4 separate regions of the Homo sapiens genome follow, and all the other regions are linked to region 1. The links come from fine-mapping of genetic effects on gene expression. A gene starts in region 1. Each other region holds a variant in brackets. All regions are shown on one strand. Distances are from middle to middle.

Region 1 (8,068 bases):
CTCTCTCAAACCTTGCTACGATGTTGGCACATTGCCTATCTGGCATGAAAGAAAAAAACAGAGAGGAGCTCCGGAAGGGGCTGCTCCAGGTGGATGCGGTTGGCCTGACCGTGACAGGAGCAGGAGGAGTAGTGCAAGAACCTTACACACTGTCGTTGGCTAACAGGGATGGTGGGAAGCGCATCAGGTCAGAGACAGCCAAGAAAGGGATGAGTGGTGACAGGTCAATGAAGAGCTGGGAGGTGAGGCGTGGGTACCGCTGGAGCAGCAGGGCTGTCAGGCGACCCAGGGCCTGCTCCTCGGATGGTGGTACCTGTAGGGGCACAGGAATGGATTCTGCCTCTGGAGATGCTCAGTATCCCTGCCATTTCCTCTCTGGAGTTCCTCCTCCCACTAAAGCAAGCCCTCTGAACACTAGGCTCCAGGTGCCCTTGCTCCCCTTTCTCAGTGCTCACCTGCAGCTTCCCCTGCAGCTTCCCCTGCAGCATGAGTGTCAGGAAGCCCTGTGCAGCCTCCCTCTCTGCTGAAAGCACCAGCTGCTGGAGGTTTTCTGGGGGCATATGCAGGTACGCCTGCGAATAGGAGGTCATGGTGGGTATGGCCTCACCTCACGGGGCAGGGACCTCCAGCCATGGCTGTCACCCAGCCCACCCATGTGCCCTCCACCTGTTACCTGCACTAGAATCTGCAGGGCCCAAACACTCTTTTCCCTCTGGAGCAGATCCCACAGCACAGGCTGGTGGGAAGAAAGACAATATGCCAACAGAGCTGTCTTCTCTGTCTCTCCTGCAGCTCCCCCAGGCATTCCAGCTCCACTTGCTGGGATGCTTGTCCATCATCTCAAGTGTGATTCTTCAGATATTAAGCTCTTTTAGGTCCGGGATCATATCTCTAATTTCTCTTGTACCCTCTCCCATGCCAGGTCCATAGTTGGCTCAATTAATACTTGTAGACCTGAACCAAATACTATGAGACTATCTAATTCCATTTTACTGGGCCCAGGGTTTGAAAAAGGTGGCCCCAACATGGAGTAAGAAATCTTTATATATCCTACAGAACCTAGCAAAGTGCCTTGCATATAATAGGCACTCAGTGAATTAATTATGGTGTTTAACATATTCTCACCCCTCCATTCTACAGACTAAAAACTGAAGCCCAGAAAAACTAAATGAAATTGCTTGCCTAAGATCACACTAATTTGTGGCACAGTTGAACCTAGAACCAAAGTCTTCTGATTGGTAGTGTCCCTGAATCTTTCTCATTCCTACCTTATCTTCCTGTATTCTGCCAGCCTCCAATTCTCACTCTCTAGGGGAAAAATTTAGAGTCCTCTAACTTGATCCTTTTTCTTTCTGGTGCAGAAAGTGAGAGAGTCAAAGAGCCCAAAAGAATAACAAGGTAATATTTATTGCATGTTTGTGTATCATGCACTGTGCTAAGCCCACAGCATGTATTATCTCATATACCATTATCATCCCTAGTTTATAAATGAGACGAGAAAAATATTGCTCAGAGAAGTTAAATAACTCATTCAAGGCTGGTCACAGAACCAAGATATGAATCCAAGCCTGTCTGACTCTAGAGCTGTGTGCTTCAACTACTACCCCACACTACTGCCTCTGAGTATTCGAGGAATTCCCCTGGAGGGCCTTCTCACTGTTCTAGGAGCTTTCCCTCTGGCAGAGCACTCACACTAAAGCAGGCCAGCAGCTCCATCTTGCTTATACCAGAGCTGGGGTTGACAGTGGGTTCAAAGCCTGATGGGGTTGGCTGCTCCTCATCTTGTTCCAGGTATTCCCCAATCGTCCGTAGCACACTGCGCCGGCCCTCTGGGCGAAAGGCATCCCAGAAGGAGCAGTTGTCTGGGAGACTGGAGAGCAGTAGGGCCCGACCCAGCATCCCCTGGGCCTCAGCGCCCCCAGCCCCTGGACCCAAGAGGAAGGTCAGCAGGCGGAGGAGATAGTGTAGGCGTGTGGGGTGAGCAAGAGCTGGGACAGAGGACTGACAGCGTGGCAACTGGGATAGCATGCCAAGGAGGAAGGGGCCAGGGGTCAGACAGAGTGGGGATGGTCCCAGTGGTGGCAGAGAGGGCAGAAGGGGGCCCAGCAGCCCTTCTAGGAAGCAAGTGTCATTGCCCCCACGACTTATCCTGCATTGGCCTGCTAGCCAAGGCCAGAAGGGCACCAGGACCTCATACATGGTGTCATTGGCACAGACCATCACCAGGAAGCTGCCCCCATCCGGGCAGCGTTCCCCACAGGGTCCAATGTGGCATGGTGGGGAGGCAGTGACATCTGGGGTGGGGCCCTGGCACACATGCTGGACCCAAGCCTGGTTGCTGGGGGGCACAGCCTGTAGACTTGCCTCCCCACACAGTCGCTCAGCCCACAGAGTCTCATTCTCCAAGAAGCAGCCCCAAAAGATGTCTGGGGTGAGGGGAACAGGGGGCAGGCCTTCAGGGCAGCTGGTAGGGGGTGGGAGCAGGCCAGCACAGAGCCGCTTCACCAGGCGGCGGTTGGAGCCAGACAGGGCTGAAAAGGAGAGGTTACTGCAGATCGCATCCAAAAACTCATCAGGAAACTGGTCGTGGCAGGCCTGTAGCCAGCCTTGGGCACCTGGTGCCCAGGACACTGCATACCACACAGCTGTCTGGCAGATGGCAGTGGTGCTGGGATGGGGCTGTGGAGTGGCAGGCTTGGTGTGCTGGCAGAGCAAGTGGATGGAGAAGTTGGAAATGCTGTAGGGTGGTGCTGGGCCTAAGTGGTTCTCACAGAGGGCCTCCACAGTGATGGCTCGCCGTTGGCGTGGGCTGATGTGGGCTGACGGCTGAGAAGCTCTGGGCAGAGGCACGCCCGTGCTCAGGCAGTGAAGGAGGGCAGGGGGTGGGGGTGGTGATCCAGACAGAAAGCCCAGCGCCTGGACATCCCAGGAAAGGTTGTGCCGGACGCCCCTGGGTGCAGAGGGAGGAGCAGGCAGGATCTGGTCAGTTCACATTTCCTCCAGCTGAAGATTCTGACCCTGACTCAGAGCCCTCAAGGGGCATGGCAAGCATAGGCTTTTCTACAAGCGAGGTCCCTGAGAGTTTAGGCGTTACTGGTTGAAATGCTGCAACGGGGCAAAAAAGAGAAAGCTGCCCTGCCAAGGTCCAAAATCACCTAGGAGAAGCCCCAGTTGGAATTCTTTCTGTCCACCTGGCCCCCTTCTGTCTCCTTTCTTCGTATGCTTTTAGATAGCTTAAACACAACCCTCAGCGGGCCTCATGTTAGGAAATCTGCTCAGCAACTCAATATGTCTAACTACTGTCTGGCATTGTTGTACTGAAGTAGTAAGGGGGTAGAGGAATCCAGCTGTGTCCTTATTTTCCAAATCCCATCTTTACTAGCTAACATTATTAAGCGCTATGTGCCAGCACGGTTTTAAGTCGTTTGCATACACAGTATCAACTCATTTAACCGGGTGCAACAACTCTGTGGTAACTAATATTATCATTCTCATTTTATAAATGGGGAAACTGAGGTATAGAAAGACTATGTAACCTGCTCAAGGTCATATGGCTAGGAAGAGGTGGAGCTGGGACACCAACCCAGACAGTCACACCCCAAAACCACTAAACTACACTCCTCCCATCAGTTTTCCTCTCTAGAGGCTGAGGTCTTCAGCTCTTCACCTCCAGATTTTCCAGGCCCAATCCCTCAGAACTGGTCTCCTGTTACTTACCATAAGAGCAGCTGTTGAAGGTTACCTAGGAGGGAAAGAGTAAGGAAGAAAACTACCCCAATTTCACTTTCCTTGCCCTGCCACATCCCAGTCCCAGCCCTGGCCACACTCACCTCCCTGGCACTGCCCATTGGTATCAGGCTCTGGCTGCCCCAAAATGGAGAAGACCTCATCCTGCAGGGAGTGAGTGACACGGAGCAGCCCCTCCTGAAAGGCAGCATAGAGGGGGGCCCCCACTGTGCGTAGCAGACCGCCCCAAAGAGCCTCCTTGGAGCCTAGCTCCCCTGTTGGGGTAAGCAAACCCAACAGACCCTGCAAAAAGTGAGGAGCTGCCTCCCTCCCATCGAGGCCTGTGGCATTGGTGGGGTCCACACTGGGCTGCACCTGCACCAGAGCTTGCCAGCGTGTGCCCTCTAACAACAGCAGCAGAGAAGGCAACCAGTCAGCAGCCAGGACACAGTCAGACGGCCCATCACGGGTGCATGGGGGCCGAGTTGGGGTAGGGGGGCCCCCAGGAACTAAGGCTCCCAGCAGCACCTCCACAAGTCCACCCAGCACCCCTGCCTGGTGCACCAGGAAATCTCGGGGAGTCTGCTCCTGTCCCAGCAGTGCCAGCATATCCCCTAGCAGCCCTAGCATTGGCTCCCAGTCGGGGCTACCTCTCAGTGTCACTAGAAAATCATGGAGCCGCAGAGCAGGCGGCTGGAGAGGTGGGGGCTCTCCTACTGGTCCTTCCCCCATTCTCCCAGGCTCAAAGGAAGAAGAAATGTTGGCCAGGAATGTAAAGAACCGTGAGCGGCTCAGGGAGCCCTGGGGAGCCTGGTCCAGAGTGGAGAGCAATGACTTCAGGAAGGAGAGACCAGGGTCCAGGGAATGAGGCCCAGTAGGGGCCAGAGTCACTGTAAGGAGAGAAACCAGAGGTCACTGAAGGAGAGGAACACAGAGCCCAAACTCAACCCTGCCCCTGAGCACAGTTCCCTACCTGGATCTAAAGATGAGGTGAGGGGATGGTGAGCTGAACCCCTTTCACTGGCCTACAGTAAGTCTTGGCCTGCTTTTCTTAACCCTCATTTTTCCCTTTTGCACAAGTCTCTGCCTCTCTCCTTTGTCCTTCTATCTAACAGGTTCACCTCCATATTCTTAAAGTCTTTTTCCAGCCACCCTCCTCCTCATCCCCAGTTCTGCTCACTGTTCTTCTTACCTGCAAAGGACAGCAGCAGCAGCAGCAGCAGCAGCAGCAGCAGGGGCCAGAGGCTGAGAGCCATGTTTCCAAGTGAACACTGGTACCGGAGGTGAGTTCTGGTTATTCTCACCTGTGTGGGATAGCCAGGTGAGGGCAGGGCACTGCAGGCAACCTGAGGCTCCACTGACACTGTAGTGTGGTCTTTCAGGAAACAATATGTGTAACCTGACAGCAGGTTTGTTACCTGAGCCGCTGAATATCTGATCCTTTAGCTCTGGAGAAGGGTATGCTTCTGTGAGAGGGACTAATGATAGGGGATCCCAGGGGCCCCTCAGAGAAACCCAAGGAGATTGCTTGAGTTAGGAGCCAGTGATGCAGAAAGGAACAGGCAGACATGGAGATGGAGAACTGGAGACCAGGGGTGTAATCTGGGGTTCTGCAGAAGCAAAGAAAACAAAGAGGATATGAAGGAGCTAAGAAGCAAGTAGGATTTGAGGAAATTGAAGAAGAAATGACGCCCAGGAGAAACAAACTGCACAGCAAGGTATAAACAGACGAGAGGTCCAGTCCAAGGATGGAGAATTCAGGAAGAGGAGAGCTGCTTTCAACTACTACCCAGAACCACAGAGTGTCAAGAGCTGAGCAGTACCCCAGAGATCACATACACCAAACTTTTTCACTTATGGATAAGGAAACAGACCCAGAGAAATGTGATTTGCTCATTAGGCCATTCAAATGTTTGGGTCTTTCCTTCCCCCTCCGGGATCCCCTATCATTTGGTTCTTTCTCTGTGGCCTAGGTGAAAGCCCTATCAAAAACTCTGAGCTGAGAAGACAGAAACCAGATTAAATCACTATGCACAGGGACTGATCTCCCTACACACAGAACTGCTCATGGAACAGAGAAAGAGATTTCATTCAAAATAATCTGGTCTGGTCAGGGTTAGAAGTCTTTTTTCGTCATTTTTGTTTTTTGTTTTATTGGTTTTTTGGTTTTGGTTTTTTTGAGATGGAATCTCTCTCTGTTGCCCAGGCTGGAGTTCAGTGGGGCTATCTGACCACTGCAACCCCTGCCTCCTGGGTTCAAGCGATTTTCCTGCCTCAGCCTCCCAAGTAGCTGGGATTACAGGCACGTGCCACCACACCCAGCTAATTTTTGTATTTTTAGTAGAGATGGGGTTTCACCATGTTGGCCAGGCAGGTCTTGAACTCCTGACCTCAAGTGATCTGCCCACCTCAGCCTCCCAAAGTGCTGGGGTTACAGGTGTGAGCCACCGCGGCATTTTTTTTTTTTTTTTTGAGATGGAGTCTCACTCTGTTACCCAGGCTGGAGTGCAGTGGCACTATCTTGGCTCACTGCAATTTCTGCCTCCTTCATTCAAGCGATTATCCTGTCTCAGCCTCCCAAGTAGCTGAGGACTACAGGCATGCGCCACCGCGCACGGCTAATTTTTGTATTTTTTGGTGGAGACGGGGTTTCACTATGTTGCCCAAGCTGGTCTTGAACTCCTGACCTCAAGTGATTTATCCACCTCAGTCTCCCAAAGTGCTGAGATTACAGGCTTGAGCTACTGCCCCAGTCCAGGATTAGAAGTCTTTTCCATTCTCCATCTATATCTCCCCAAAGGCCTTCACTTTATACCAACTCTAAATAGTAATTCAACACTGAAGCTATACCCAAACTTTTATTCTGTCCTTCTTTCCCTAGAACCCTTCCCCATTCTCTCCCTCAAATCCACACATGGAACTTCATTATTAATGTGCTTCTGATCTAGAAGATTCACTTAGGATCATAGAGTTTTATTTTTGTGTATTTATTTACTTAGAGACAGGGTCTTGGTCCATGGCCCAGGCTGGAATACTGTGGTATGATCCTAGCTCACTGCACCCTCAAACTCCTGGACTCAAGCAATCCTCCTGCTTCGGCCTCCCAGGATCACAGAAGAGACCTGAGGAATCCTCTGGTAAGAACTTCTCATTTTATAGACAGGGGAATTGAAGCCCAGAGAAATGGAATGACTTAACCCAGGTCACAAAGACAGCTGGGAGCAATGATGGGATTTTCCAAGGCAAATCAAAAGTTGAGATCAGTGAAATGATCTGTTGTGTAATTTTACCAATATTCCCTTTGCCCATCAAGGATACCACACCTAGTCTAAAAAGCAGACAGTTGAATCTGAGGGAGAATACGACCTGAGTTCCCAACAGCTTTGTGGTTCCAGCCCATCCTGTAATCCTTCTGAATTTCTGCCCTTCATTCTGTAACAACCCTCTTATAATAAATTATCCTTCTTTCCTCATAGGGTAGCAAAAAATGAGATGGTCTAGGTTCAAACCCTGGTTCCAACATTTACTAGCTGTGTGTCCTGGGGCAGTTTCTAAATCTCTGTTTTTGGTTTTTTGGGTTTTTGTTGTTGTGGTTGTTGTTGCTGTTGTTGTTTTTACTGTAAAAAGGAAAAAACCCTAGTGTAGAGTTTTTGTGAGGATTAAATTAGATAATGCATTTAAAGTACTTAGTGCAATGTCTAGCATTCATTCAACAAAGATTAAGCACTTATTATGGGCCAGACACTGGTACAGAATAAACATTCACTCTATGTTACTATTACTATTATTAGAATAGCTCAAGATGAATTTTTCTACTTGAAACTAAAGGAGTTCTAATGAATACATAAATGATTATCTGGAAGTTGTATCTTGAGTGAAAGACCTTCAGAACAAATATGGAACTAGTTGAGTCAACCAGAGAGAGAAACAATGAGGATTCCCTTAACTCAGGATGGAAATTTTCCTGGCAGTCCACGTTCTGCTGTTGTAAGCCATTGATTAAGCAATTCTCTTGCCGCTAAGGATTCAGACTATGTGCAAACTGACGGCAAAGTGCTTAGGGTTTATGGCACATATACCAGGCTATTTGAGTGTATTGGTAATTGCTTATAATTTGATAAAGTTCAACAAGAGCAAGACAAGTTCCAACCTACAGGTGACCAAATGGAAACAGAGAACAACCAGCAAATTTAAATTACAAAGGTCCAGAACAAGAAATTAATCATATGTCCTGCTAAAATGAAATGGATAAGACTGGTGATAACTGGAACACTCTGTGATCTGCCAGTTAGAATGGGTATACCTGGGAAGAGCCACAGGAGTTGAGAACTCTGAAACATCC
Region 2 (8,068 bases), 140 kb after region 1:
AGTGATTCCCCTGCCTCAGCCTCCCGAGTAGCTGGGATTACAGGTGCCTGCCACAATGCCCAGCTAATTTTTTTGTATTTTTAATAGAGACAGGGTTTCACCATGTTGGCCAGGCTGGTCTCGAACTCCTGACTTCAGGTGATCTGCCCACCTTGGCCTCCCAAAATGCTGGGATTACTGGCATGAGCCACTGCACCCAGCCTGTTTTTTTGTTTTTGTTTTGTTTTGTTTTGTTTTGTTTTTGAGACAGAGTCTTGCTCTGTTACCCAGGCTGGAGTGCAGTGGCATGGTCTGGGCTCACTGCAACCTCCGCCTCCCGTGTTCAAGTGATTCTCCTGCCTCAGCCTCCTGAGTAGCTGGGATTACAGGCACGCACCACCAAGCCCGGCTAATTTTTGTATTTTAGTAGAGACGGGGTTTCACCATGTTAGCCTGATGGTGAACTCCTGACCTCAGGAGATCCACCCTCCTCGGCCTCCCAAAGTGCTGGGATTACAGGCGTGCGCCACCTAGCCTGGCCTCTGTATTTTTATTTATTAACATTTCAGCTGGAAATGTTTTCTGACTGCTATATTCCTTTGTACAGTTCAGTAGTACTATCTTACAAGAAACAGTTAAAAAATCCTTAGTAAGAGTAAAATGGGGTCTGGCCCTGTTGTGCATTCCTGTAATCCCAGCAGTTTGGGAGGCCAAGGCAGGCAGATCACTTGAGATCAGGAGTTCAGACCAGCCTGGCCAACATGGGGAAACCCCATCTCTACTAAAAATACAAAAATTAGCTGGACGTGGTGGCGCACATCTGTAATCCCAGCTATTTGGGAGGCTGAGTTGGGAAAATCACTTGAACCCAGGAGGCAGTGGCGAGGTAAGAGACCAGCCTGGGCAGCATGGCCAGACCCCATCTCTACTAAAAAATGACAAAAATTAACCGGGCATGGTAGCACACGCCTGTAGTCCTAGCTACTCAGGAGGCTGAGGTGGGAGGAGAAGATCACTTGAGCCTGGGAGGTGGAGGTTGCAGGAAGCTGAGATTGCACCATTGCACTCCAGCCTAAATGACAGTGTGAGACCATCTCAAAAAAGAAAGTAAAATGGGCTTTTTTTTTTTTAACCTTATTCTCGTCACAAAATAGACCTATTTAAGCAAATTCTTTTTCCGCTTTCATGTTTCAAGTGAAAGTGAAAGGTGAAAGCTTGCTTTGCTTGCTTTTTTTTTTTTTGAGACAGTCTCTCTCTGTTGCCAAGGCTGGAGTGCAGTGGCGCGATCCCGGCTCTGCAACCTCCGCCTCCCCTGTCTGGCTAATTTTTTTTTTTTTTTTTTTTTTTAAGTAGAGACCAGGTTTCACCATGTTGGCCAGGCTGGTCTTGAACTCCTGACTTCACCTGAATCACCTGCGTTGGACTCCCAAAGTGCTGGGATTTCAGGCGTGAGCCACCGTGCCTGGCTTAGTGAAAGCTTTCTTTGCAGTTGATTTTGTAGACTAATATTTCCATTATGGAGTTAATCTGCTATATATTTTTAAGGATAAGAGTATCTGAATTTCTCTGGGGAAATAACACTATTTAAATGTTTGGAAATGTCCGAAAATTTATTGATTAGTGTTAATATGTAATATTAAGTCCTTGGCCGGGCACGGTGGCTCACGCCTGTAATCCCAGCACTTTGGGAGGTCAAGGCGGGTGGATCACGAGGTCAAGAGATCGAGACCATCCTGGCCAACATGGTGAAACCCCGTCTCTACTAAAAATACAAAAAGTTAGCTGGGCGTGGTAGCAGGTGCCTGTAGTCCCAGCTACTCGGGAGGCTGAGGCAGGAGAATGGTGTGAACCCAGGAGGTGGAGCTTGCAGTAAGCCAAGATCACGCCACTGCACTCCAGCCTGGGCGACAGCGAGACTCCTTCTCAAAAAAAAAAAAAGTCCTCAACATCTATTTATGCTATAGATGTGTATGCTACCCTCTAAGACAGTAGTAATAAATAATGGCTGGGTGCAAAGGCTCACGCCTGTAATCCCAGCACTTTGGGAGGCCAAGGTGGGCAGATCACGAGGTTCAGGAGTTTGAGACTAGCCTGGCCAACATGGGGAAACCTTGTCTCTACTAAAAATACAAAAATTGGCTAGGCACGGTGGCAGGAGCCTGTAATCCCAGCTACTCAGGAGGCTGAGGCAGGAGAATTGCTTGAACCTGGGAGGTGCAGGTTGCAGTGAGCTGAGATCATGCCACTGGACTCCAGCCTGAGTGACAGAGCAAGACTCCGTCTCGAAAAAAAAAAAAAAAATAATATATGTGCTAATTTCTTTACTTGTAATCCCCACCCCGAGTTGATCTTTTCAACATCAACATTTAGCTCATATTTTTTTTTTCCTTCCCTGGACAACTAACTGGTTGATCCTGCCTCTCTATTGGCATCTAATAATACTGTGTCACCCCTGCCAGACTGGTGTTCCTATAAGGAAAGGACTATACCAATTTTCTTATCAAAGACACTTGATAAGGCACTTATCAAAAAGTACTTGACGCATGGCACACATGATGAAGTGATGATTATGGGTGAATATATGTTGGAATTCATTATCAACTGCCAGGTGCCATCCCTGAGGATAGATAGAATTAATTGTGTTTTAATATTTTCTAGGGGTGGGTGAAAGAAGTAGTGGTTAATCTTGAAGGATGTATGTTAACCAACCCTGATTTCCCTTAAATACCACCTGAGTTCCATTCCTGCTGGATTTGAAGAGGAGAGTCTCCTCCAGCCTCATTGAAACTCTTTTTGTGGATTTGATGACCTTATGGATATTGCCAAAGTTTAAGGCAGTGGATTTTAGTCCCAGCCTTGCAGCTTACACACACACCTGGTTGCTCCCCAGATTTCTGGAGATTCTCATTCAGTAAGCCATGCATACTTTTGTTGTTTTAATGCTCTGTGGGTATTTTTGATAAGCATCTAGAGTTGACACCTACTGGCTTGACCTAGTAACTATTGTATGTGATTTTTTTCTCTTAAAATGTTTGAAGATAGTTGAAACAATTAACTCATAAATCTGTTGCCTCAGCCTTGACAACTACTATATATTCAACAGAAATCTCTCATCTGTCTCTTCTTTATTCTCATTGCTG[C/G]CATTCCGGTCCAAGCTTTTATTGTCTGCCATGTGAAATATATTATCTTCTAGATGGCTTTACTCTTGTCTCTATTTTCTCCCTTTCTGTCAGTCTTTGACATTGCTGATTGACGTAGTCTTAGTACACGTGCACGCACATTTATTATCTCACAAAAGCCCTTTACAGTTCTCTGAATGCATCATGCTTACTGGTATTCTTTTACGTTTGCTCTACTATCTCCCTCATCTTAAATACCCTGCCCTCTTCTCTCTGAAGCGTTAAATCCTTAAAGACCCAGATCCAATTGTTACTCCCTTTAAAATCCATTTACTATGCAGTATTAAAGGAATACAGAGGATATAATGAATAAGACCCTATTTCACACACATAAGATACCACTGATTGTGAGAGGAACTATCTTGTGTCTCACTGAGAAAGAAATACTACCACTGAAACTATAACATGACTGCAAAATACATCTTAATATCAGGAAAAAACAATGAATCTGAAATACAGCATAAGGAATAGCATTTGTTTGCACTCAGTCTGAAAAACATAGCCAGTACATTTGAAGTCCCCTATGTGCCCCTTTACCATCTTATACACTCCTTTATCTTGAATTTGGTATTTATCATTTGGTTCTTTTATACTTTAATAGGCCGCCTGAAGGCCTTGGAGAATAAGCTGTTATAATCCTTTATTTTAAACAAGTTTTAGGTGTACAATATTTCCAAGTTATCCATCACTTGATAAAATTACACCATTGACTATTGAAATATATCTGCTCAAGTTTCTTCTCTATTATATTTCTATTTTTGCTGTCTACGGGAAGGTTACAGAACTCACCTTCTCAACGTGATCCCTCTGCAACCCTTTGGCTTTTGAAAAGGTGATGTACAGCTGGTGCTAGCTGTATATACACTGATTAGGATTTTCTGGGCAGAGGAGCCGGTGCTTCTGGTGGCCCTCTGGGAAAGGTATTCTAGTTTACATGTTTTGTTATCACTTCTCATGGCTAGGTGAACTATGTAGCTGTAAAAATCAGGCCTGCCATCTAAAAGACTTAATATCATACTTGAGACATTACAGGGTTTCAGTCACAATTTTGTGTCCCCACCCCCACCCCGAGACAGAGTCTTATTCTGTCACCCAGGCTGGAGTGCAGTGGCGCGATGTCAGCTCACTGCAACCTCCACCTCCCAGGTTCAAGCAATTCTCCTGCCTCAGCCTCCCGATTAGCTTTGATTACAGGTGCCCACCACCACGCCTGGCTAATTTTTGTATTGTCAGTAGAGACGGGGTTTCACTATTTTGGCCAGGCTGGTCTTGAACTCCTGACCTCGAGTGATCTACTCGCCTTGGCCTCCCAAAGTGCTGGGATTACAGGTGTGAGCTTCAGTCACTATTTTTAACAACCACAATGCTGGTTTCCCAGGGAATTGTATTTTCCTCTGGGGAATTCTATCAGAAATGGGATTATTTCTATTTTGTCCTTCATTCAGCCTCATTAATTGGTCAAAAGGGCATTAACCCATTCAACCCTCTTTAATAATGTGGCGTACACCTTTGACTACAGCTTTCACAACTTAGTTATACTTTGTATTGAGAAAATAGAGCTGCCCTGTGCTGAGCCAGTACTATGGAGTCAACCTCAGTCTAGGGGTAGGACCTTTACCTCTTGAGAGTTCTGGTTTACTTTAACAATAATGAATGTTGTTCATGTGATGATTTTGCTTTTTGGAAGTGTCTACTAGCTCAAAGGTAGTATTATAGTTTGAGATTCTTCCTAGTGAGACAACATTAACAAATTCATAGGACTAAACTGAGAATTTGGCTTTTTTAATACGTATATAGGTGTGGACACTGCAAGAGACTTGCACCTGAGTATGAAGCTGCAGCTACCAGATTAAAAGGAATAGTCCCATTAGCAAAGGTAAGTACAGGTGGATTCTTCACTAAAGGACGTGAAGTATTTTAAAAAGTAGTTTGTTGTCTCAGCTTTGTTACATGGAAAAAAATAACAGTAATAAATAGTTTGTAAGATTAACATTCATTTTCTCTACTCTTATTCTGCTAAGAAGAGCGAATACTAGTTTCTGGGCAAATACACAACTGACTTGTAGTTTCAAAAGATTAAAAGTAGTGGCTGGGCGCAATGGCTCATGCCTGTAATCCCAGCACTTTGGGAGGCCGAGGTGGGTGGATCACGAAGTCAAGAGATTGAGACCATCCTAGCCAACACGGTGAAACCCTGTCTCAACTAAAAATACAAAAATTAGCTGGGTGTGATGGCACGTGCCTGTAGTCCCAGCTACTCAGGAGACTGAGGCAGGAGAATTGCTTGAACCCAGGAGATGAAGGTTTCAGTGAGCCGAGATCGGGCCACTGCACTCCAGCCTGGTGACAGAGCAAGACTCCGTCTCAAAAAAAAAAAAAAAAAAAAATTAAAAGTAGTGAGAGTAAGGAAATTACTGGCATAAGAAGTAAAATAGACCAGGTATGGTGCCTCACAGCTGTAATTCCAGCACTTTGGGATGATTACTTGAGGCCAGGAGTTTGTTGCCTGGGCAACAAAGCAAGACCTCATCTCTACAAAAAATTTAAAAAGCTGGGTGTGTTGGCTCACACCTGTAGTCCCAGCTTCTCAAAAGGCTGAAGCAGGAGGATTGCTTGAGGCTGCAGTGACTAGACACTGCACACTACTAGACTCCAGCCTAGGTGACAGAGTAAGACCCTGTCTCTTAAAAAAAAAAAAAAAAGTGTAATCCCAGTACTTTGGGAGGCCAAGGCAAGTAGATCACTTGAGACCAGCCTGGGCAACATGGCAAAATTCCATCTCTACTAAAGATACAGGCAGGCTTCCATAGTCCCAGCTACTCAGAGGCTGAGGTGGAAGGATTGCTTAAGCCAGAGAGGTTGAGGCTGCACTGAGCTGTGATTGAACCATTGCACTCTAGCCTGGGCAATAGAGCGAAACCCTGTCTCAAAAAAAAAAAAAGTAGTAAAGTATATGGTAAATAAGAATTAAAGATGGAAAGCAGAAGTACAGCTATAAAGGTTAAAATAATCATTGAGGCTGGGCACGGTGGCTCACGCCTGTAATCCCAGCACTTTGACAGGCTGAGGAGGGCGGATCACCTGAGGTCAAGAGTTCGAGACCCGCCTGGCCAACATGGTGAAACCCCATCTCTACTAAAAAATATAAAAATTAGCCATGTGTGGTGGCAGGTGCCTGTAATCCCAGCTACTTGGAAGGCTGAGACAGGACAATCGCTTGAACCCAGGGGGGCGGAGGTTGCAGTGAGCTGAGATCATGGCACTGTACTCCAGCCTGGGCGACAGAGCAAGACTCCATCTCAAAAAATAATAATAATCTACAAGTAAATGAGTTCCCTAAACTGCTATGTGATAATCACAATGATGGTAATACGAAAATGATATGAGGATATTGATGAAAATGTAACCAAATGGTCAACTGTAAACTTGGTATTTGTTTTTACAATTAAAGTAATGCTTCCAGAATGTTGCCATTCTGTAGTAAACCCATAGTTGTTCTAGTCTAAAAGCTCTTACCTCTGCCAAATAGTTCATATATAAGGCTATTTTTGGAAATTACTTTTAATCTTATCAAGCAGCTTGCCATAGGAAAAAAATTTAATCATAGCCAGGCGCTGTGGCTCACGCCTGTAATCCCAGCACTTTGGGAGGCCAAGGCGGGTGGATCTCCTGAGGTCTGGAGTTCAAGACCAGCCTGGCCAACATGGTGAAACCCCGTCTCTACTAAAAATACAAAAATTAGCCAGGTGTGGTGGCCGGTGCCTGCAATCCCAGCTACTCGGGAGGCTGAGGCAGGAGAATGGCTTGAACCTGTGTGGTAGAGGTTGCAGTGAGCTGAGTTCGTGCCATTGCACTCCAGCCTGGGCAACAAGAGTGAAACTCCGTCTCAAAAAAAAAAAAAAAAATTCAATCACAATTCCTACCTGTGTGACTATAGACACATTAATTAATTTTCTGGATCTTAGTTTACCCATCTTAGAGCATAAGGATCATACTTCATAATCTTATGGAGATTAAATGAGATAATATATGCAAAGTACTTGTGCCTGGGTTGGAGTAAGTGGCTCGTTCCGGGAAATTATTTTCCTTCTTCCTGATAGGTCTCACTAGATCGGTTATGTTATGGTATAGCCCAGATTCAAACTAGTTCAGGGTACGTGTACAGGTGTTGGTACCTTTGATAATAGCTCTAGATGATTTGCAAAATCAAATTACATTACACCTAAAGGATATGTACCACCATCGATATATCCCCTTGGTGATAGTCGTAATCAAAGTAAGCCACTGTTAATAATTTAAGTGATTTATCCCTCATGTGTTCTGAGGCAGAAAAAAGATGAAGACCACCGCTTTAGCTAATAGAGACTACAAGGGCAGAATTTAAACAGGAACTTTGCATTTTATGTGAGGCCTAGGAATCTCAATTTTAAAGAATTCCTTAGGCAGTTCTGATGTAGTTAGGCAAGCTCCAGTCTGCCTTTAAAATCTAATGTTCTGTGGCATATATGCCAAGAATTCCTTGATCCCCTTAGGATTTGACCAATCCTAGTATTTTGAGAATATAGGAAGAACCTGCAGCAGAAACTTGGATAAGAAAATAGTTTGTGTATTTTGATCTTTAGGTTGATTGCACTGCCAACACTAACACCTGTAATAAATATGGAGTCAGTGGATATCCAACCCTGAAGATATTTAGAGATGGTGAAGAAGCAGGTGCTTATGATGGACCTAGGACTGCTGGTAAGGATCCTGAATTACATTCTGGAAACTGATGTTAAGTACCTTATTCTTTGTAGTGGAAACATAAAAATGTGTTTTTCTACACAGTATACTTTCAGTCTTAAAACTTCCTCATCTAAGAGGTCAGTTTGGTGGTAACAAAAGACCTCTCTAAATGAACAGATTATATA
Region 3 (8,068 bases), 120 kb after region 1:
AATTAAAATGGCTTAAGAGCTAAATAGAAATCAACATTGTGGTGCTCTGGCTTTAAATTCATCCTGATGCTGAACTGGATCCAGACAAAAAGAACAGAACCATACTTCGATCATCCCTAGAATTTTACAGAGGTTGGCCCCTTCTAAAAACCAATGGGGTTACACTATACTTATTCCTATGCTTGTTTTGAGACAGAGTCTCACTCTGTCACCCAGGCTGGAGGAGTGCAGTGGCATAATCACAGTTCGCGGAAGCCTGGATCTTCCGGGCTCAAGAGCCTCTGGGTAACTGGGACCACAGGCACATGTCACCATGCCCAGCTAATTTTTTCTTTAAATTACTTGTAGAGATGGGGTCTCCCTATGCTGCCCAGGTTGGCCTCAAACTCCTGGGCTCAAGCGATCCTCCGGCCTTGGTCTCCCAAAGTGCTGGGGTTATAGGCATGAGCCACTGCACCCAGCACTCCTATGCTTATTTAGGCTCTGTACTTCTTCCGTAAGTTTTTCTTTCATGCACATTTCTCTAAGATGGACAATATTTCACATTTTAACATCCATGAAATTAGGATGCTTTTTTTTTTTTTTTTTTTTTTTGAGATGGAATCTCGCTCTGTTTCCAGGCTGGAGTGCAGTGGTGCAATCTCAGCTTACTGCAACCTCTGCCTCTGCGCCACCATGCCCAGCTAATTTTATTATTTTTGGTAGAGACGGGGTTTCACCATGTTGGCCAGGATGGTCTCTATCTCTAGACCTCGTGATCTGCCCACCTCGGCCTCCCAAAGTGAGGATGCATTTTACAACCAGCGATGTGTCCCAGTTTAATTGAGCATGATTTTTATTTCTTATTGGTAAACAGTGAATTTCACCATTGATGACAGCTTAAATTCAATAAAATACAAAATTTTTTCACTTAACAATAAATTCTAGCTCTCAGGAGCATGGGATTATATAATTAGAAAGAGCTGAGGACCACATTTGTGGCTGGAAAATAGAATGCTATAATTTTTATTCAGTTTTTGCCCTTGCAAAACAGGAACCCAAACAGAGCAATGAAGTAAAATAAGGCTCTTGTAAAGCAGAATATAGTTTTGAGTAGTTTAAAATAGTTTAAGTAGGGAAGTCCAAATTATAGAAGCAGTAGCACTTTTACTCTCTGGAAAAATGAATAATTTTATAGAAGCTAAACAAACCCAAGGAAGTTCAGAGGAACGAATAGCAGAAATTGCCTCAGCAGCACAGAATGTGCAGAAGTGACTGCCTCCACTCTACATCAAGTAATGTGTCCTCTCTGAAGATGAAAAATAACTTTTTAAAATTCTTGGAATTTTTCAGGCTGCTATAGCAAAGCAAAGGAGTCTTAATGGAAATAGAGACCAGGAGCCCAGTGAAGTCTACCCAGGAATCTTAGCCAGTGAAGTGAAGTAGCAGTGAACATCTATGTTTCAATATTCTTCTCAGGGTGACAGACAGTAGCCATTTGATCAAGCAAGTCAGGCAAATACATAATTCTGTTTTACAAGGTAGAGTTCACCATGAACAGTCATCTATTGCTACTCCCTATTCTAGAAAAACAACAGTAGGTCACCTCACAGAATACCAGGTAAATTCACATTGGTTTCAAGGAGTCCAATACTATAGGTGAGGAGAATAGTACACTGTAACAATAAACTGTTATGTAGATTTTGACATTTACAGTTTTAATATTTTTAGTAATGTTTTGGCTAGTTATATCCATCATGAAACAAGGAACACTGATGTTGAAACATAATTTCTTTCTTTCTTTTTTTTTTGAAATGGAGTCTCACTCAATCTGTTGCCCAGCTGCCATCTCAGCTCACTACAAACTCCGCCTCCCGGGTTCAAGCGATTCTTCTGCCTCAGCCTCCTGAGTAACTGGAACCATAGGTGCACATCACCATACCCACTGATTCTTGTATTTTTAGTAGAGATGGGGTTTCACCATGTTGGCCAGGTTGGTCTTGAACTCCTGACCTCAAGTGATCCGCAGGACTAGGCCTCCCAAATTGCTGGGATTACAGGCATGAGCCACATGCCCAGCCAGAAATACAATTTCATGAAGAGCATTAAGAGTGATAATTCTGGCTGGGCGCGGTGGCTCATGCCTGTAATCCCAGCTCTTTGGGAGGCCGAGGCGGGCGGATCACGAGGTCAGAAGTTCGAGACCATCCTGGCTAACATAGTGAAACCCCGTCTCTACTAAAAATACAAAAAATTAGCTGGGCGTGGTGGCGGGCGCCTGTAATCCTAGCTACTTGGGAGGCTGAGGCAGGAGAATGGCATGAACCCAGGGGGTGGAGCTTGCAGTGAGCAGAGATGGCGTCTCTGCACTCCAGCCTGGGAGACAGAGCAAGAGTCTGTCTCAAAAAAAAAAAAAAAAAAAAAAGAATGACAATTCTGCAAGTTTAATCTCAAGATGATCTTCATCAGATTCTATAAATTCCATTCATATGACCAAAAACTTTATATAGCACATCAAACCCTCTCTAGGACTTTAAAAGTCAATGTAAAAAATTGTAATCTTCAGGAATATGCCCACCTTTGGGAAAAAATTGTAATGATATTATACTTAGGTTTTATTTTATTTTTGATACAGAATCTTGCTCTGTCACCCAGGCTGCAGTGCACTGGTGAGATCATAGCTCACTGCTGCCTCAATCCCCTGGGCTCAAGTGATCCTCCCACCTCACCCTCCTAATATACTCAGTTTTTAATTTTAAGTAGAGATTGTCTACACTTGCAATGTGTTATTTTCTGACAAAGGCTTGCAAATGAGTCAAATCATTTTTTCTTTCTCATTATTTGAAACAAAATACAAGATTTTAAAAATAAGCCAATTGATGTTTAAAGTGCAAAACAGAGGCCAGGCACAGTGGCTCATGCCTGTAATCCCAGCACTTTGGGATGCCGAGGCGGGCGGATCACCAGGTCAGGAGATCGAGACCATCCTGGCTAACACAGTGAAACCCCATCACTACTAAAAATACACAAAATTAGCCAGGTGTGATGGCAGGGGCCTGTAGTCCCAGCTACTCGGGAGGCTGAGGCAGGAGAATGGCGTGAACCTGGGAGGCAGAGCTTGCAGTGAGCCGAGATCGTGCCACTGCACTCCAGCCTGGGTGACAGAGCGAGACTCCGTCTCAAAAAATAATAATAATAAAATAATAAAATTTAAAAAATAAAGTGCAAAACAGAATTACCAATATCCAGTTGTGGAAGTAGATTTTTTAAAGCCCTAACAGTTTAGATCGCTTTGTGATCTGGAAAAAAAATTTTAAGCCTAAAAAAAGTCTTAATGTTTATCATATGAATTAGTCTGTTCAAAGAAATCTGTTAATCACAAATAATTTCCCTCTGCAAAATCCCTCCTCCGTTTCTCCCACAAGAATAAACTTAATAAGATAAAATTTCCACGAGCTTGCCAGATAATTTCTAGTCTGGCAATCTACTTATCCTCTGACACAGTGATCATGTTTCATATTCAGTTAACTGTTTTACCAAATAGAATAGTTAGTGCTATTCTATTTTGATTTGTCTATTAGATCTAGGGCAGGGGTCCCAAGCCCCAGGCTACGGACTGGTACCAGTCCATGGTCTGTTAGGAACCCGGCCATGCAGCAGGAAGTGAGTGGTGGGTGAGTGAGCATTACCGCCTGAGCTCCACCTCCTGTCAGATCAGCTGCGGCATTAGATTCTCATAGGAGGGCAAGCCCTATTGTGAACTGCATGTGCGTGACCCTTAGGAGAATCTAATGCCTGATGATCTGAGGTGGAACAGCTTCATCCTGAAACCTCCCTCCTACCCCATCCATGGAAAAACTGTCTTCCAAGAAACCAGTCCCTGAAGCCAAAAAGGCTGGGGACCACTGATCTAGGAAATCCTGTATAGTTACTATTATTTACTTCATTCCAAGGCTTAGTACTATAATCCTAGCCATGCAAGGCAAATACATGGCAGCAATCATACAATAAAAGGGAATTATAAGTAACTTAGTTCAAAATCTTCACCATTATGAGGAGGAAATAAAACACCTCAAAGTATATAGTATACTGTAGTGGGTCCGTGACATCAATTATTGTTGTTTATTTAAATATCTTTGACCTGACTGCAGTAAAGGACTATTTTTTTCGAGACAGGGTCTCACTTTGTCACCTAGGCTGGAGTTCAGTTGCACGATGTCTCACTGCAACCTCCGCCTCCCAGGCTCAAGCGATCCTCCCACCTCAGCCTACTGAGTAGCTGGGACTACAGGCATGTGCCACCACACCTAGCTAATTTTTGTATTTTTTGTAGAGATGAGGTT[T/C]CTCCACATTGGCCAGACTGGTCTCAAACTCCTGAGCTCAAGCAATCCTCCTGCCTCAGCCTCCCAAAGTGCTGGGATTACAGGCATGAGCCACCATGCCTGGGCCCCAGAGATAAGCTTGTAGGGGACTTGGAGCTAGAGGCAGAGTTCTGAACTGGCTACCGGCACTGGACACTTCTGTTGAGGAAAATATCTGTGTGACATAAACAGCCAAGAGCTTCATAACTACGCCCTTCTCTTAAAAATTCCTCCTAGGCTGGACGTGGTAACTCATGCCTGTAATCCCAGCACTTTGGGAGGCTGAGGTATGAGGATCACTTAAGCCCAGGAGTTCAAGACCAGCCTGGACAACATAGTGAGACCCTGTCTCTACAAAAAAAAAATCAACATAATTAGCTTGGTGTAGTGGCATGCACCTGTAGTCCAAGCTACTCAGGAGGCTGACGTGGGAGGATCAATAGAGCTCTGGAGGTTGAGGATGCAGCGAGCCATGATCACACCACTATACTCCAACCTAAGTAACAAAGTGAGACTCTGTCACTAAAAAATAAAGTGGGAGACTTCTCTACAACAGTGAGAATGAAACAAGTGAGTAGTTCTACTGTCCTTTCATCATTTCTGAGCAGTTTGAGATTATCAACAAATGAGCTCACTGATTTTGCAGACATCCTTATGTTTTGAATATGTTTCATATAATTTATTATTGGTTTAAGAATCATTTCCTTTTAAGTAATTTTTTTGGCTCAGCTAATATCTTAGTGGTACCTACCTTTCCATACTTTGTGAGCTTTCTTATTTTTACTTGAATAATATTTCTAAATATACTTGTAAAAATGTAAATGTTAGGCTGGGCGCAGTGGCTCACCCCTGTAATCCCAGCACTCTGGGAGGCCGAGGCGGGTGGATCACGAGGTCAGGAGATTGAGACCATCCTGGCTAACACGGTGAAACCCCGTCTCTACTAAAAAATACAAAAAATTAGCTGGGCGTGGTGGCGGGCACCTGTAGTCCCAGCTACTTCGGAGGCTGAGGCAGGAGAATGGCGTGAACCTGGGAGGCTGAGCTTGTGGTGAGCCAAGATCGTGCCACTGCACTCCAGCCTGGGCGACCGAGTGAAACTCCGTCTCAAAAAAAAAAAAAATGTAAATGTTAGATCATTCACCGATAGGCACCAATATCTTTAACAGAAAAGGTTAATGCAAACAATTGTCAGCCTAAACTGACAACAGAAATAAAACTGGTCTTCCCAAGTTCAATTCCTTGTGGATTTGTTACATTGCTACATATTACACCTAGTTTTATGTGTCTAGATGCTCTGTATCTAGTATACGCTTGAGAGCCCTCCAAATATTAATATTTCTTTTTTTTTTTTTTGAGATCAGGTGCAGTGGCGTGATTTCGGCTTACTGCAACCTCCGCCTCCCAGGATCAAGTGTTATTCTGCCACAGCCTCCTGAGTAGCTGGGATTACAGGTGTCCGCCACCACGCCCAGCTAATTTTTTGTATTTTTAGTAGAGATGGGATTTCGCCATGTTGGCTAGGCTGGTCTTGAATTCCTGACCTCAAGTGATTCAACCACCTCGGCCTCCCAAAGTGCTGAGATTACAGGTGTGAGCTACCGTGCCCAGCGAATATTTCTAGATTTTAGCAGTTGCATAAATTCTACTCCAGGAGGCTTAATTGTCCTTAATATAAATGTCACATTTCAAATGACATTCAAAAATGTAAAATGATCAATTTAGAAAAAAAAAATTACTCCTACCCACTTCCTCTTTTTCTTTTTCTTTTTTTTTTTTTTTTGAGACAGAGTTGTACTCTGTCGCCCAGGCTGAAATGCAGTGGCACAATCTCAGCTCACTGAAACCTACGCCTCCTGGGTTCAAGCGATTCTCCTGCCTCAGCCTCCCGAGTAGCTGGGACTACAGGCCATGCCACCACGCCCAGCTAATTTTTTGTATTTTTTAGTAGAAACAGGGTTTCACCATGTTGCCCAGGCTGGTCTTGAACTCCTGAGCTTTGGCAATCCGCCTGCCTCGGCCTCCCACAGTGCTAGGATTACACGTGTGAGCCGCCGCGCCTGGCCTCACTTCCTCTTTCATACAATGTCAGTTCTCACGTATTTCAACCATCAGTACGATCGTATTCAAAAAGATCAGGAAGATGATGAAGTTTTTGAAGAGAGGACCTGTTGTCTCTTAAGGAAACATACAGAGTGGAGTTCTTTCTGATTTATGCAGCTGAAATAATAAGAGCAATAACATAAGCAGTGAGAATGAGACAATGGAGTTTGGGAAGCAAAAAATAAGTCATTAGGCAGATGATCAACAGCCAGGATAAAAATGAGTGACATGAAAGGATACACTCAAGGACCCATCCGGCCCACAAAGAAAGAGGTGGCCTCTGACTGCAGCGCACATGAAGCCTGCTCAACAGCCTCTGGGCATGTGAAATCTGTTCTATACGTTGAGGCTTTATAGAGACGCCCACTAGCTGGTGTTGATCTCCCAACATAAGTTTCTTCTGGCGGGAAGGATCTACAACAAAAATTGAAAAGGGGTAGTGGATAAATACAAACAAAATAGACCAGGTAGGGTTGGGGGCAGGGATACTGTTCAGATAATGGGTCCCCCTAATGGCTTACTGCTGGTCCTTCTCTTCTCACAGCAACTAAGAATTCTGTTTGGAGTGAGAGCAAATGTATTGCTTATGACCAACACTGTCCATGCCCACAAAAGCAGCAGGTTCACTCTCAAAGTTTTAAGAGTCTTTGACAGAAACTGTTCCGTATCATCCACGGCTAGTGGCTATCCTAGGCCTAAAAGTGAAAGACGTGGATTCTATCTCCTTAGTTTTATTTACAAGCCCTTGATTTATCAAGTTTGGTAAACCAGCAACTAAACCGGCCTCCCCAGAATTTTCCACTCTTAAATGTAGAGGATGTGGATAGGAGTCTTAAATTTAAATTAGTGAAGAAATAGGCTGCTGACCAAGTAACTCCTGATAGTGTGTCGCAGCACAGCTTGGCTCAAGCCTTGCAAATGCTCGATGAGAGAGAAAGTATCGATGAGACGTGAACGAATGGCATCAGCTCGGGGAAGCTGCATCTGCCCTTCTTGTTGGTAAGCGGCCATGTCTGCTAAGAAAATGTAAGCATCAAGTGTCATTTCATTCTTGGAGCTGCACCAAGGATTACAGGTTTTCTGTCCCCTCCTCCCCACCCTCTTTGCCCTTAAGATTCCTTAATGTACCCACATCTACGAACTAGGAGCAGTTGGGCAGAACAAACATTCTACTAAGACTCAGGGTTTTTTGAAACAAAAGGGGCTAAGAGTGGTAAAGACATTGAGCAGTCGACCAAGTGGCCAGGCATCTTCACTTTGTGACGGCACTACCAATTAAAAGCTCATTAAAAAAAAAAAAAAAAAAAAAAAAAGTCCGGGCGTGGTGGCTCACGCCTGTAATTCCAGCACTTTGGAATGCCGAGGCGAGCGGATCACGAGGTCAGGAGATAGAGACCATCCTGGCTAACACGGTGAAACCCGGTCTCTACTAAAAATACAAAAAATTAGCCGGGCGTGGTGGCGGGCGCCTGTAGGCCCAGCTACTCGGGAAGCTGAGGCAGGAGAATGGCGTGAACCCGGGAGGCAGAGCTTGCAGTGAGCGGAGATCGCGCCACTGCACTCCAGCGTGGGGGACAGAGCAAGACGGCATCTCAGACAAAACAAAACAAAACAAAACAAGAAAC
Region 4 (8,068 bases), 86 kb after region 1:
TTCTCAGGTGGGTGGAAAGCATTAACATTTTACCCATATTCCTCATCAGCTTCTGAAAATAATCAGGATGCACTTCTGTTTGCACTTTATTCATTATGACTTAAGATTTCTCTCCCCACAATCTCCTTCTACTGTAGAGACAGGCTCATAGCAGGTGGCCAAGGAAGCTGATAGTCAATACCAGGGACCAGGAAGGTCGTGACCAGTCCTGGAGGCCCCAGGCTGTACTTCGACCTATAATAGACAGGGAATGGGAGTAATATCACAACTCAGCTCTCCAGGAGCATTGATACTTGGAAATTAGCGCTCTGCCTGTAGACTCCTTCACTCCAGGGATCTCCCTGGGTGCACTCTAAGAGCCAGACAGCACCAAATTAGGGGTTTGATTCTGGGTCAGGAGATGGAGGATCAAGCTGTGCAGCTGGGAACTCACCTTGCTGTTCTGGGCTCTCCTTTCCCTCATGTTGGGCCCATGCAACTGCTCGTCGCTGCTCAGGACTCAGAAAGGCCATTTGCTCAGGAGTGACAGCCACAGCCTGAGCACTGGCGAGACTAGATAGTTGGATGGGACTAAACACCACCTGAGGGCAGGGGTAGGAATCAGTGCATGCATGTAGTCCCCATTGGGCCCTGGCTCTCCTGTGGTCACCCCAGTCCATTAATACTTACAGCAAATTTAGGAGGAGGGATGACAGAAATGGCAAGAGGAGTAACGCCCTGGATCTGTCCCCGCAGCAGTGCTGAAAGAGCCAGGTCTGGGATCCCAGCTGTTGAAGCAAGTGGCATCCAAACATTGTCTTAGACTGACCTTCCCTCTCTTCAAACCTATAGACCTTCTCTAACTACTCCCAAAGTGCCCTATCATAGACCTTCCCCAATATGTCTCTAGCCCCTTATTTAAACACCCTCTCAGGCCCACACCTGAAGAATTGCAGGGCAGTCTTCCATCCAGTCCACCCATGGTATAGAAACCAAACCAACTTGCACCAGCAGTGGCCCAGCTCCCCACCTGCTATGGTGCCAATTTCAGTGAAGATCTCAGGCCCCCAGTTACTGATTGGGCCAAACCCACCAGGCAGTACAAAGAGGTGGGCCAGAAACTCCAGTTGTTCCTCAGAGCACTGCAGATGCAGGGTGCCCAGGAAGAGAGCTGCTTGGCTGTAGAACAGTGGGAAGGAAGGAAGAAGAATTCGGCTTCAGTGAAAGGGACTGTGGTCATGAGACAAAGGAAGAGATGGCTTCAAATGAGTTCCCTTCCTCCATGGGACTATAACTTCATGATCCTCCTTTCCCCAGCAAGTCCACCTTTACCTGAACACGACCACCCTCAGCCCCTTCACAAATGACCTAAACTCCCAACTGCTGATGTGCTGGAGCTCCTCTGGCCGCAGTCCACAGAGAGTATAACCCAGCGCTGTCAGATGAACGAAGTCCAGGTGGCTCACATGCCGACCACTCTGCCGTAGGAAACTGGAGACCACAATGCGGAGCTGGGGTGGGGGGTGGGAGAAGAGGGGAAGGAGGAAAGTTATGGAGAATTAATGGACAGGGAAGTGATAGGTGTTACTGGGTTATATTCTGTTACTATTAAGACCTAAGGAGTCATGGGGAAGGCTGAGGACTCAGAAAAGAAAAGGAAAGAAAAAGAGGAAGCCTCCAGGAAAAGAGGTAGGAGACAGTATTATGTGTCCAGGGCCTCAGAGTGAATAAATCAAGAGTCCTGAAGGTCACTAGTATGGGATATTAACAAAAGACAGAAAGAATGACCAGGTAGGGTCACAGGAAAAAATTCCTTGGGCTTTAGATGATCTATAGGGCTGGGTCTGTGGGATGGGTGTTTGGGAAGCGGTAGGGAGGAGTAAAAGTGTTACCTGAGTGGAGCTCCAGCCATCTATCTGCCCCAGGGTGCTCAGCACTCCCCAGTCCACTAGGATCAGCTCCTGTAGTTCCTGATCTCCCAGACCTATTAAGAGTCTACCGAGCTGCAGGATCTGCTCAGGACCAAATCCCCGGGGGGGACCCCACAACTAGGAGAAAGAGAGGAACAATGTGAGTGGAAAACCAGTAGATTGGGAGTCAGAATGCTGGGTTTTAAGTCTTGCCTCTGACCTTAGCTGTATAACTCTAGGCAAGTCACTTGCCTTTTCTTTGGTTTCCTCCACTATAAAATGAGACCGTTGCCTTACAGTTCCTCTAAGGTGTTTTGAAAGACATTACAATCAGTGGAAAAGAAGAGCAAACTAACTCTAGTCCATGAGTTCCACACTTTTATGTGCATCAGACACAGAGACGCTTATTAAAATGCAGATGCCTGGGGCCCAGCACAGTGGCTCACAGCTGTAATCCCAGCACTTTGGGAGGCTGAGGTGGGAGGAATGCTTGAGCCCAGGAGTTCAAGACCATCCTGGGCAACACAGCGAAACCTCATCTCTACCAAAAATACAAAAATTAGCCAGGTGTAGTGGTGTGCACCTGTAGTCCCAGCTTCTCGAGAGGCTGAGGCAGGAGGATCGTTTGAGCCCAGGATGTAGAGGTTACAGTGAGCCAAGATCACACCACCGCACTCCAGCCTGGATGCTGGGTGACAGAGTGAGACTGTGTCTCAAAAAAAAAAAAAAAAAAAAAAGCAGATGCAGATGTCTAGACTTTCTCCCAGAGGCTTATTTTTTAATTTATGAGACAGGGTCTTGCTCTGACACCCAGGCTGGAGTGCAGTGGTGTGATCTTGGCTCATTGCACCCTCCACCTCCTGCGCTCAGGGGATTCTCCTACCCCAGCCTCCTGAGTAGCTGGGATTACAGGCATGTGCCGCCACACCCAGCTAATTTTTTTTCTATTTTTAGTAGAGACAGGGCTTCACCATGTTGCCCAGTCTGGTCTCAAACTCCTGGGCTCAAGCAATCCACCTGCCTCAGCCTCCCAAAGTGCTGTGATTACAGGCACGAGCCACTCCGTCCAGCCTCCGCAAAGGTTTTTATTAAGTCAGTCTAGCATGGTAATCCAGCATTGGCACTGTTCCCGTGCTCGGTTCAGCAGCACATATACAAAAAAAAATTGGAATGATACAGAGATTAGCATGGCGCCTGCGCAAGGATAACACACAAATTCATGAAGTATGCCATTATTTTTTAAGAAAGAAAAAAAAAGAAAAAAGAAAAAAATCTGTTCCCTTGATGATTGTGATATGCATTAAAATTTGGTAATCACTGCTTTAGTCCCTCTATTCATTATAGTAGCTCTCTTTCCTCAATATTTATCTCTCCTCACCTTCTACTTGTGACCCAAATCTTCTAACTCTTTTATCTTCTGCTTCCCCCACCTCTCATCCAACTCTCTATTCTCTTCGTGTCCTACATCACACCCACACAGCTTCCTCATGGCCAACCTCAGTTGGCTCTCCGTCCCTGACCCATTTTGCTTTGCCCATGGCTGCCCGTGGTTCCTCAGGCCCAAGTCCTGGGTCTCCTGCAAATAGTGTCAGGCAGTCCTTAAAGTCTGAGAGCTCCATCTCAGCAATCTGGGTTGCAGAGCAGGCTGCTGGGAATGTCCCTCGTACATCTGCACAATTTGGCACAGGTTCTGAAGGGGGAAGGCAGGGCCAGGAGGTATCTGTAGATGGAATGACTCTTCCAACCTTTGGAGGATGGAGCACTGTGGGAAGTAGGGATCGAGGGAGTATTACAGGTTAAGATGTATAGGGCTTAGAAGTGAATTGAACAAGAAGTGATTGGAGATGCCAAGTCCCTCATTTTATAGATGGAAGACTGAGGATGTTGGTCAGGGATTTCATGGCAGAGCTGAATTTGAAACCAGTTCTCTAGCCTCACAATGTCTCCTTCGAGGGATCTCCCCAGCAGAGAGCTCCACACTTAGCCGAGCTAGAGCTGAGTCAGCTGTTTAAAGAGACAAGACAGCAGGAAAATGGAAGTTCTGGGCTAAAGGAAAACTTAATAGTTTACACACTCCCAGAGCTATAGAATTTTAGAACTAGACGAGACTTGAAGATCATCCCTCTAAACTCTTTGCTTTATAAATTAGAAAACCCAGTCCCAGAGAAAAGCACATGTAGAACCCAGACCGTTTGATACTCCCTGTACATCCTGCTGGACATATAAGTATTTGGGTAGTTTCACCTGGAAGATCCTCAGCAGCTGGTCGCACCACCCCTGCTACCAGGGCTGCTTTCTTGGCAGCAAGCTGTGGCCCCCTACACAGCTGTCCAACTCTGCTCTGCTCCCAGCTCTG[C/T]TGCTTTTCTAGAAGCCGCTCCAGGGTCTCTGGACCCAAGGCCTCCTGCATGAGAAGGTAGAAGGAGAGTGGGGAGATCTGGACAGATCAGGACCTGCTGCTATAGCTATAAGTCCAAAGTCCTGTCTCTGTTTCGCAGTATCCCCCCAGATCTAGGCTTCATATCCTTTGCCCTCGTTGGCCACGGGTCCCCATAACCAGCTCACCAGTCCCCTCTATGCATTTACTCCCTTCCCTTCTTCCTTCATCTCACCCTGGGGATCAAGGAAATTGCCTCAGTAGACAGAGTGAATACTAGGCGTCCAGCTTGCTCTACTTCATCCTGGCTCCACAACTCTGGTTTCCTGGGGACAGGAAGAAAATCGGGGGCTGGGGAGCTGAGGGAACTGTGAGGAAAAGGAAGGGGAAAAGAGGACATGCTAGGATTTCGGACACAGGGCTCCAAGGGCCCTTAGGAATATGGAACAGGCTGCCACTGATGATGGTGGCTGAGGGACTGGGTATAGAATGAGTTAGAATCTGAAGTTCTCGAAGATCCATACCCAAGAACAGACTCCTGCAATAGCAGCCATCCCAGCTCTGTGGCAAATGTCTCTCCTAGGCAGAAGCCTTACAGCTGACTGAGATGGGACAGCAGGATCTGTAGGGGGATCTGTCGTGTGCTCTCTGTCCCCAGGAATCCAACCAAAGGGCCTAAGGTCTCCAGCACTTCCCCTGAGACTGGAGTCTCCTTTGGAGCCTGGAGAAGAGCATCAGAACTTGGACAATGCACTTCTGACTCAGAATACCAGACACCTTGATCAAGACACCAAGCCCCCTGACCTTCCCTCCCTCCTGCTCCCAACTCAGCACCCTATGATGCTCACTACCTTTGTTCACTTTCTTAAGCAATGAGACCAGATAGGAGCAGGCAGAAAGACTGAGAGGTGGACTCCAAGAGATTTCTCGGACTCCAAGAGGTATGGACAAGTAACGTGAAGCATATTATCAAGGAACAGAACCCAGAGGCAAAACGGGCCAGGCCTTGTAGACAGGAACCTGTTTGGCAGCAAGAAAGCAAGAAGTAGAGGGTTGGAGGACAGTCAGAGAGCATTGTCTGAGGAGCAAGAATTGCCCAGGGCAGCAAATCTGAGTCTGGTAGGGTGGACTCTTACCAGGTTTTGTAGTGCCCTCTCTGCCAGGGCTGCCTGGTGGAGGGGGGTCAGTGCCAGCAGCTGCTCTGGAGCTCTTTGCACCAGCTCCACCACCAACATAATGGATTCATTGGATAGTCTGTCCATCAACTGGATTCTATTATAGCAATTTGACAACAATATCATTCAAGTGGAGCTGGGCCAAGTCGAGAAGGGACCACAGAACCCCACAGTCCCCAGCTAAGATGTGACCCCAGACCAAATTTAGTGAAGCTGGACAGGAACTGACAGTAAACAGCTCCAGGGCCAATTCCCACCATCAAGCTTGAGTGGGGGAGAAAAAGGGAGCAACATATTTCTAGTCTTCCTAAAAAAAAAAAATAACGAACAATCCTACCTGATCTAATGGACTCAAAAGCTCCAAATATTAAGTACCATTAACATTTCCCCATTTTATAGATTAAAAAACTGAGGTTCACAGAGATCAAATGTTGAGGTCTCTCACTCCCAATTCCCGTTTTTTTCCACAGGACCACCCTTCCTCTGCTTGTGAAGAGGTCCCTTCTTGTTTGTACGTGCTATACAATTTACAAAGTTCTTTCAGGTGTTATCTCATTTGATCCTACAACAAGACCTGGCCTCACTCCATCACTCAGGCTGGAGCACAGTGGTGCTGCGATCTCAGTTCACTGCAACCCGCACCTCCCAGGTTCAAGCAATTCTCGTGCCTCAGCCTCCCGAATAGCTGGAATTACACGCACGTGCCACCACGCCCAGCTAACTTTTGTATTTTTAGTAGAGATGGTGTTTTGCCATGTTGGCCAGTCTGGTCTTGAACACCTGACCTCCGTGATCCACCCACCTTGGCCTCCCCAAATGCTGGGATTATAGGCATGAGCCACTGCACCCAGACAAAATAGGTGTTTCTCTTATCCTTCTTTCACAAATGAGAAACTCAAGTTTTTTGATGCATGGTCTAGGATCTTTCACCTCATCTGTAACCTTGGGATTCTAAATTATCTCACAGAACCCACATATTTAAACAGATCTGAATGGCATTAAAAAAAAGTAAAAACAGGCCGGACGCAGTGGCTCATGCCTGTAATCCCAGCACTTTGGGAGGCCGAGGCAGGCAGATCACAGGGTCAGAAATTCGAGACCACCCTGAGCAACATGGTGAAACCCCGTCTCTACTAAAAATGCAAAAATTAGCCGGGTGTGGTGGCACGCGCCTGTAATCCCAGCTACTCAGGAGGCTGAGGCAGAAGTGCTTGAACCCCAGAGGGAGAGGTTGCAGTGAGCCGAGATGGCACCATTGCACTCCAGCCTGGGTGACAGAGCGAGACTCTGTCTCAAAAATATAAATAAATAAACAAATAAATAAATAAATCCCTTTTACCCGAAATCAGAGGTGATAACCTGTACCCTACCTAGGATTACCAGTTCTGGAACTGGGCTAAGTCATACAAGAGCTGAAATCTGTGGAAAGGCCTATAAAAATATAAGAATGTTGGGAAGCCGAGGTGGGCAGATCACTTGAAGCCAGGAGTTCAAGACCAGCCTGGCCAACATGGTGAAAGCTCGTCCCTACAACAAATACAAAAATTAGCCTGGCATGGTGGTGCACACCTACAGTCCCAGCTACTCGGGAGACTGAGGCAGGAGAATTGCTTGAACCTGGAAGATGGAGGTTGCAGTGAGCCGAGATCACGTCACTGCACTCCAGCCTTGGTGACACAGCAAAACTCTGTCTCAAAAAAAAAAAAAAAAAGAAAAAGAAAAAAGTAAGAATGAAGTCAACTGCTTTTACTCCACTTCAGCTCCATATTCCCCAGGAAGACTGTAACACCAGCATTTTCCTATCCTGACTTACAGTGCGGATGGCAACGGGGTGGTGGTAGGGGTAAAATGAGAAAAGCAGCATATGAGTAACATACTAATAAATTTCTCCATGGGTAGGGAGGAGCCTTGGGTTCCTATAGCCTTTTCTTCCCACAACCTGTATATGAACGTGCTCTACAACATTCCTGCCATGGGGCCATCTGGCTTAGGCTCGAACAGCTCCAAGGACCAGGAACTCACTACCTTAGTTTTTCTTATACTATGTAAAAATCTGATCTCCGTTAACTACTCTTAGTCTTGCCCAATGGGGCCACTCATAAATATGACAATCTAATTTCTACTTGATAGCCCCTCAGGTATTTGAAGGTATTTATCACATTTTTCATATATTTTTCTCTCGATCCACTCCTCTGAATGCACTAAGAACACAGTGCCCTGAGCAAACTACAATCCTCTGGGGCAGATTTGGAGCATTGCCTCCCTCACTTCAGATGCTCTGTCTCAATCTCAATTAATGTGGACTAGGTTATTGTAAGATTACTTGGCAGGCTTCAATACAGTGTTGCCACCCTCAGCTGCCCTGTGCTGGAGCATATTCTGGGAACCAGTCAATACATAGAGCAACTTTGAATAAAATCCTCTGCTTTGGGCTATAAATTATGTCAGGGAACTACCAGACAGAAAAACTACCTCCTCCAGGGCATTCCCTAAGGGCAGATCTTCACCCCAGATTGAGCTTTCTGAGGGGCCAATATCTCTAGCTGCAGTACTTACGGTAAGTCCAGGAGTAGCTTGCTATCCAGCCCGTTCAGTTCTGGCCCTACAGTTGTCCATTCTGGTTCTGGCAT

What was found. PIP is the estimated chance that this variant, and not a neighbour inherited with it, causes the effect. A credible set is the group of variants that fine-mapping cannot tell apart.
Region 2: its variant is the best candidate, but not a certain one, in a credible set for the expression of STRC in whole blood (TOPMed, PIP 0.69).
Region 3: its variant is the best candidate, but not a certain one, in a credible set for the expression of STRC in whole blood (TOPMed, PIP 0.61).
Region 4: its variant is the best candidate, but not a certain one, in a credible set for the expression of STRC in nasal epithelium (TOPMed, PIP 0.76).

What each region holds. Positions count from the first base shown.
Region 1 is chr15:43,613,741-43,621,808 of GRCh38, forward strand. STRC (stereocilin) reads right to left here and starts at 5,060. Exons shown (of 29, transcript NM_153700.2): 1 at 4,919-5,060; 2 at 3,831-4,616; 3 at 3,718-3,742; 4 at 1,693-2,950; 5 at 674-736; 6 at 456-572; 7 at 147-313. The coding sequence starts at 4,982. LOC124903598 (small nucleolar RNA U13) reads left to right here; the gene lies at 1-45. RefSeq lists an enhancer at 1,597-2,470.
Region 2 is chr15:43,748,869-43,756,936 of GRCh38, forward strand. It overlaps PDIA3 (protein disulfide isomerase family A member 3), which reads left to right. Exons shown (of 13, transcript NM_005313.5): 2 at 4,956-5,034; 3 at 7,781-7,898. Among named protein-coding and RNA genes, the nearest start is that of PDIA3, 6.5 kb to the left of the region's middle. The variant C/G (reference allele first, on the strand shown) is at 3,120.
Region 3 is chr15:43,737,712-43,745,779 of GRCh38, forward strand. It overlaps the pseudogene CATSPER2P1. Among named protein-coding and RNA genes, the nearest start is that of PDIA3, 4.7 kb to the right of the region's middle. The variant T/C (reference allele first, on the strand shown) is at 4,323.
Region 4 is chr15:43,699,343-43,707,410 of GRCh38, forward strand. It overlaps the pseudogene STRCP1 and the pseudogene RNU6-353P. Among named protein-coding and RNA genes, the nearest start is that of CKMT1A, 9.5 kb to the left of the region's middle. The variant C/T (reference allele first, on the strand shown) is at 4,246.